Homo sapiens: one gene and its partner. The protein of the gene in region 1 purifies or fractionates together with the protein of each later gene. This does not show direct contact. Each region holds a gene or a part of one and is shown on either strand. Other genes may lie near its edges. The genes, in order: ZNF558 and VSIG4.

The links.
Region 2: the proteins of ZNF558 (region 1) and VSIG4 purify together in Homo sapiens (affinity purification with mass spectrometry; one large-scale study listed by BioGRID and IntAct). This does not show direct contact.

The regions. Positions count from the first base shown.
Region 1 is NC_000019.10:8,818,521-8,822,340, reverse strand, and holds part of ZNF558 (zinc finger protein 558), read left to right. Parts: intron 1-248; exon of another isoform or gene 249-249; coding exon 250-338; exon of another isoform or gene 339-899; intron 900-1,034; coding exon 1,035-1,161; intron 1,162-3,820. UniProt on the Homo sapiens protein: May be involved in transcriptional regulation.
Region 2 is NC_000023.11:66,022,970-66,026,789, reverse strand, and holds part of VSIG4 (V-set and immunoglobulin domain-containing protein 4 isoform 1 precursor), read left to right. Parts: intron 1-1,660; coding exon 1,661-1,765; intron 1,766-3,820. UniProt on the Homo sapiens protein: Phagocytic receptor, strong negative regulator of T-cell proliferation and IL2 production. Potent inhibitor of the alternative complement pathway convertases.

The DNA of each region.
Region 1 (3,820 bases):
ATCTGTGAAGTGGGAATAATCCCTTCCCCAAGTGCAGTCAGACCTTGAGCCCTATTGTCTTTGGTTGGTGAGACAGGGCTGTGTTTGGGTATCTTAGGAGAGCTGTGGGTAGGTGTTTGCATGGAGCGTAGGTGGGCACTGTGTGGTGCCTCATCCGTGTGGGTGTGGGAGGTGGGTGTGGTCAATCAGGGGCAGATCTGTGGGTGTCAGACAAGCCTGAATCCATGGGACTCATTTCTCCTCCTCCAGCTCCGTCTTCCCTGTTCCCAGCCTCTCAGCAAAAAGGACACACACAGGGCGGAGAGCTGGTTAATGAGCTCCTGACAAGCTGGCTACGGGTGAGTCAGATGTTCCTTTTCCCAAATCATTATTCCTTTGGCCAGAAGGTTGGACTTGATACCTTCCAGCAGCCTGGAGCCTCATGGCCAAACCAGGTCCTCAGGCATCCCAGGATTTCCAGGCATCAGATGGAGGGTGAGGGCTGCCCAGAAAATGTCAGTGTGTGTCAACATTTACTGCAGGTTCAGAGCTCCCTCCAGGGTCCCTGAGTACATCATGTGCTCCTGAGAGTTTTAAGGGAAAGCCAAGTAAAGACGTGATGATGTTCTAAACCCAAGCAATTAATAAACGCCACGGAAATCAGTCATTCACTTACCAAGTATTTCTCTGCTTTCTGCCATGTCACGGGCCCATGATCCCCTGGAGATTGAGGGAAATAAGATCACAGGAGCTCCCAGTCTGAGTGAGAAAAGGCAGCTGCTCTGTGGTACTGTGCACTGGACCTGGGAATGGCCTAAGGAGACAAGCATTGAGGGCTGAGCTCAGAAGCCAGGGAGAAGAGCTCAGAACCCCAGGAGAGGAGCTCAGAACCCTGGGAGAGGAGCTCAGAACCCTGGGAGGTGAGCTCAGAACCACCCCCCCCAACATCTCGTGCTCAGGTTTCCCCAGCCCTGGCTCTGTTCTCCTGGCCCCTCTTCCTGTGCACGTTGGTGGGGGTGGTCCTTGGCTAAGCCGTGATGTTTGCAATGCTTTAGGGCTTGGTAACCTTCGAGGATGTGGCCGTGGAGTTCACCCAGGAGGAGTGGGCGTTGCTGGACCCTGCCCAAAGGACACTGTACAGGGATGTGATGCTGGAGAACTGCAGGAACCTGGCCTCACTAGGTAAGCCTAATGTCATTCCTGCATTTATTTAATGACTCCAGTGGCAACACTTGCCTGCTTTGCTTACTTTTTTTATTGTGGTAAAATCCATACAACATAAAATTCACCATTTTTAACCATTCTAAGATATCCAGTCCAGTGGTTTTTCATACATTCATGGTATTGTGCAACCATCAACACTATCTAATATCACCATATTTTCATCACCCTGAAGGAAACCCCGTCCCTATGAAGCAGCCAATACCCGTTACTTTCCCTACCCACTGCTGCTGGTAACCACTCATCTGGTGTCTGTCTTTAGGAATTTACCTATCCAGAACATATCATATAAATGTAATTACAAAATACATTACCTTTTGTGTCTGACTTTTCATGTAGCACAGTGTTTTAAAAACTTAGCTATGGGCCAGGTGTGGTGGCTCACACCTGTAATCCCAGCACTTTGGGAGGCCGAGGCGGGCGGATCACGAGGGCAGGAGTTCGAGACCAGCCTGACCAACATGGTGAAACCCCATCTCCACTAAAAATACAAATTAGCCGGACGTGGTGGCACACACCTATCCCCAGCTAGTCAGGAGGCTGAGGCAGGAGAATCGCTTGAACCAGGAGGCAGAGGTTGCAGTGAGCTGAGATTGTGCCATTGCACTGCAGCCTGGGCAACAGAGCACAACTGTGTCTCAAAAAAAACAAAACAAAAAAACTTAGCTATGTTGTATGTTGTACCAGCGCTTCATTCCTTATGACTGAATGATATTCCATTGTATGGACATACCACATTTTGCCAATCCATTTTTCTATTGAGAAACATTTGAGTTGTTTCCACTCTTTGACTATCAAGAATAATGCTATAATACTATGAATTTTTGTGTACGAGCTTTTGTTTAAATGCCCACTTTCCATTTTCTTGGGCATATACTAGGAGTGGAAGGCTAGGTCTGTGTTTAGCTTCTTGAGGAACTGCCAGACTTTTCCACAGCAGCTGCACCATTGCACGTTCCCGCCAATGCAGGAGGGTTCCAGCTTCTCTGCATCTTCCCAGCACTTGCCTTTTTGATTATACTCATACCAGTAGGTATGAAGTGCTATCTCGTTCTTGTTTTGATTTGCATTTTTCTAATGACAAATGACATGGAGCATCTTTTCATGTACTTGTTGAGTATTTTTCTTTGGAAAAATGTCTATTCAAGTCCTTTGCCCATTTTTGTTATTGTTGTTATTTGTTTGTTTGCTTGTTTTGACACAGTCTCCCTCTGTCGCCCAGGCTGGAGTGCAGTGGCGCAGCACGATCTCGGCTCACTGCAACCTCTGCCTTCCGGGTTCAAGTGATTCTCATACCTCAGCCTCTCAAGTAGCTGGAATTACAGGCATGTGCCACCATGCCTGGCTAAATTGTTTTGTATTTTTTATAGAGACAGGGTTTCGCTGTGTTGGCCAGGCTGGTCTCAAACTCCTGGCCTCAAATGATCCGCCTGCCTTGGCCTCCCAAAGTGCTGGCATTACAAGTGTGAGCCACCGCTCCCAGTCCTCTGCCCATGTTTTACTTGGGTTGTTTATTTTTGTTGTCGGATTTTAAAAGTTCATTTTATATTCTGGGTACCAAATCCTTATTCAAAATATAATACATAAATGATTTCTCTATTCTTTGGGTGTCTTTTCATTTTCTTGATAGTGTCCTTTGATGCACAAAAGTTTTAATTGTGACCAGGCAGAGTGGCTCACGCCTGTAATCCCAGCACTTTGGGAGGCTGAGATGGATGGATCACTTAAGGTCAGGAGTTCAAGACCAGCCTGGCCAACTTAGTGAAGCCCCATCTCTACTAAAAATGCAAAAATTAGCCAGGCGTGGTGGCAGGTGCCTGTAATCCCACCTACTCGGGAGGCTGAGGCAAGAGAATCACTTGAACCTGGGAGGCAGAGGTTGTAGTGAGCCGAGATCCACTATATTCCAGCCTAGGCGACAGAACGAGACTCCGTCTCAGAAGACAAAAAAAATTTTAATTGTGATGAAGTCTGTTGTATCTAGTTTTTCTTTTTTGCTTGTGCTCTTGGTGTGATACCTAAGAAACCATTGCTCAAGTCAAGGTCATGAAGATCTACCCCTATGTTTTCTTCCAAGAATTTTCTAGTGTTAACAATTCCACTCAGCTGTGTGATAGATTTTGAGTGAATTTTGCTTATGGTGTGGAGAAAGGGTCAACTTCATTCTTTTGCATGTGTGTATATCCAGTTGTCTCACCACCTTTATTCTTTCCCCATCAAATGACCTTGGTACCCTTATTGAAAATTATGTGGCCATACACACTGGAGTTTATTTACATACTCTCAATTCTGTTCCATTGGTCTGTATATCTCGAACTCCTGACCTCAAGTGATCCGCCTACCTGGGCCTCCCAAAGTGCAGGGATTACAGGCATGAGCCACTGCTCCTGGCTCCATTGGTCTATGTATCTGTCCTTGGGTCAGTACCACAATGCCTTGATTATTGTTACATTGTAGTAAGTTTTGATAACAGTAAGTGTAAATCTTTCTACTTTATTCTTCTTTTTCACTTCTTGTCTGTTCAAGATCCCTCGCAATGCCATGAATTTTCAGATCAGTTTGTGTATTTCTGAAAGGAAAAAAAACTCAGAATTTTGATAGTGATTGTTTTATCTCTGTA
Region 2 (3,820 bases), on another chromosome or scaffold:
ACAAAAGGTATACCAAGGAATCTCTAAGACTCCAAGTCTACAGTAGGCATCTGTTGTGACTGGTTGGAATTAAATAGTTTGATAACTATCACTCCTGGTACTCATTCTCTGCCTGTGTATAATTGAGAGAGTGGACTTCCAAATGCTCTTTGTAACTCTCCATTCCTGATTGCAGAGTTTTTTGGCTATCCCTTGGCAGCACTCAAACCTGTTTTATGTTCCACATTTGCATTGCCATCTTTGGCTTCAAGATTTCCATAGCTCCGTTCCTCTCCGAGAAGAACATCTACTGGGAGAAGAGAAGTTAGAAATTGCCTCATAGGGAGTTGGTTTGGAAAAATGAGAAAATAACCTTGGGCAAAGTTATTAGATGTTGGGTCTGCGCCCTATTTTCTCTACCAAGTTTTTTAGTACTTGACTCTCTTCAAAAGAGAATATTTCTTCGATTTGTACCAGCTTATAACTTGAGCTCTCTCAGTCCCAACAAGACACTCTGAGGACCACAAATACTGGATTCCTAGGACACGATATCTTAGAGTCTCATGAAAACAAGCCAGTTGCAGCAACAAATCCTAAGTACACTGAGGTTCCTTTCCTCACGCCTCTCTATCCCCCCTGACCTAGCATCTTAGATTCAGAATATTATAGCTAAAAGTGCTTTAGACATCATCCAATCTTTTCATTGAACTTATGGGGTAACTAAGGCCTAGTGACAGTCAAAGTTTTGTCTAAGGTCACTGTATTCATTTTTCCATGGCTGCTGTAAAAACTTACCCCAAACCTAGTATCTTAAAACAGCATAAATATATTATCTTCCACTTCTGGAAATAAGTCTGACACAATTATCACTGAGCTAAAATCAAAATGTCAGTCAGCAAGGCTATGTTCCCTTTGGAGGGTTTGGAGAAGAATTAATTTCCTTGTCTTTCTTTTCTGGCTTCTAGAAGCTACCCACGTTCTTTGGCTCATGGCCCCCTTCCTCCATTTTCAAAACTAACAATGTAGCATTCTCAAATCTCTGTTCCTTTTTACTATGTAAACTAACATACTGACAGGTTCCAGGAATTTGGATGTGAATATCTTTAGAGGACCATTATTCTGCCTACCATAGTCATACAGAAAGTAAATAACAGATCTAGGACTGGAAGCCAAGTCCAGTTGATTCTTTCAGCTTTTAGGCATAATGGGAATATGTGTCTCAAGTGGCTCAGTGGAAATATGTTTTGAGAAAGAAGGAAGCTGGGGACTTGACCAGAGCGTGTGATGGGAAGAATCTTTGTGGCTAGAAGTAACTGACCAGAATCTTAATAAGGTATGTAGCATTTTTGGTGAAGCTGGAAAGTCAGGATATTATTTTCTTTTTTCTAAGGGAAGGTGAAAACCTTCTGTCTTGGCCCTATAGAAAGCATAGACAACTAGCTCAAATGCCCAGGCCAATCAGCCCACCAGTGAGTCTGGAAGAACCTGTTTACACATGGCATCTCTTTCTCAAGTCTTTCTCATGGGACTGGAGTTTTTTCTCTCTGGCTAGCTAAGAAGGTTAGGAGAATATGGAAAATGAAAAAGAAAAAGGCCTGGCTTAGTCTAGGCTGTTTCTTAGAGTTTTTGTTTCTGGCCTTATTTTCAATCAAATACCACTTGATCTTGTTTTACCCTCTAGGAAAGAGCCTGCCTGTCTTTGCCATCATCCTCATCATCTCCTTGTGCTGTATGGTGGTTTTTACCATGGCCTATATCATGCTCTGTCGGAAGACATCCCAACAAGGTTAGTGATGAATATGAGAAGGTGGCTTTGGCTCATTTGTTCTTTCTGTCAGTATACTTGAGCCTAAATTCTGTATCAGGCATTGTGTTAGGCACTTCAAGAAGCTCCCAGCCTAGTTTGGGAGTTAAGGTTGGGGTGCAGGGAGGCAGATGTTCGAGCAAACAATGGCATAAGACTTACAGAACTAAATGCACTAGGCTTTGGTACTCAGTGAAGTACAGCCATCTTTCTAACGAGTCATCTTGTAATGATGCAAGAGAAGGAGAAGTCACAATCCCTGGCCTCAAGTTGCTCACAATTTATTTAGGAGATTCAAGGTAGAAACATGGAATTTATCAATGACAATACATAGCAATAGAGGCTATGAGCTCAAAAACTAGAGAAGACAATTAATGCTAAAGGGATCCAGAGGAGAAGAGAGTAATTTAAGGCTTGGGTAATTAGCAAGGGATTTCAGAAGGAAGAATATCTTAGACCACATTTTGGAGGATGAAAACAAGTTGTAAGGAGACAGTATTTCAGGAAGAGAGAACTACATCAGCATAGTTGTTAGGGCCTAAAAGACAACTGAGAGTGGGGTCATCAATAAAGAAAATTTCTGTAGATGGGCAACAGGGAAGTACAGTGGGAAATGAAAGCTTATTCCTGATTATAGAAGGCCTTAAATGCCAGGTTAAATAATTTGGACTTTCTTCACTAGGCCTTGCAAGGGCACTAAATTTACCAAATTTTTCAAGCATGGAAGTGGCATAATGACAGCACAGTTGTCAGAGCCATTTAAAAACTATGAACCAACCGAGGAGGAAAAAAATTGGGATGCTTGTTTCTAAAAGAAAAAAATACTAGCTGTCTCTCAATGCCCAGTGCACTAGTCATGTTGCCTAGCATCAATTTGTCTTATTCTCTGTAGTATCTCTTACTCCCAAATAGCCTGGTTACTACCATGGATCTGATGGATTTCCATCACCAGAAGGGAGCCTTGAGTATCTCCTTCTCCCAGGTTTCAATTATAAGCTCTGGCTTTTGCCAGTTAGCATGTTTATCACCATGAGGCTGAACTTGATAGCACATGACTACAAACCCCAGGGGCACTAAAATGAAAGCATTTGCATATAGCCTTGATGAGGCTGGGCATAAGCGGTAACCACATTAAATTGTTTCTCTCTCAAAAACCTTCCATGGCTTCTTATGGCCCAGGGGATAAAGGTCAAAATGTAGCATTCTATTCAAGGCTCTCTGTGATGTGGGTCTAGCCAATTTTCTCAACCCACCACTTCCTTATACCTAGTCTCATTTCCAAAAATTCCTCTTTCCTATCTCTGTATAAGGGAGACAGCCTCAGAGCATCAATTTAATTTAACATAATTACTGAGCACCTATTGTGTGACAGGTGCTGAGCATATTAAGATGAAAAAGACACGACCCTTGCGGTACAGGTGCTCATAGGCCAATGGGCGAGTAAGACACAGAAATGCAGGGCTCTACCATAAGGCAGAAGTCCTGTGGCTTCCCTTGTTTACTTTGTTGTCATTTAATGCTTGCATTTCCAGTTGCATCCCTGAAAAATTATAAGCACCTAGAGGGCAGTACAAAGAAATATCTGTCTTTGCACCAACCTAAGCCTTTGAGCCTGTACGGAATATAGGACACTCCTCCTCCACAGACACTAGGGGGCAATGGTAACCAATACCATGGTTTTTCCTGGGTATATAGTGGGGGTGAGTGCATTTGGGAATGTCTTGGGTCACGGCCATCAGCATCAGGCTAATCCAGTCCCTTCTTCCTGGTATGTGGCCTGACAGTCAAGTTTCCCACAAGGACTCTCTGGGGATCCTTGGGGGAGATTCCTGGGTAAAGAGCAAGTCCAGTTCTAGTGCCCTCCCCCAACCCATACCGAGAAACTGCTCCAGCCCAATATCCTGAGTCCAAGATGACAAAAAGGATAGTGACCAAATGTGCTTCCCCTTCTTTTACCTGATAAATTTGCATCTCTGTGTTTCAATTCACCTCCCCAATACCTCCCAGTTGTTGGAAAGCTAAGACATATTAAAATCC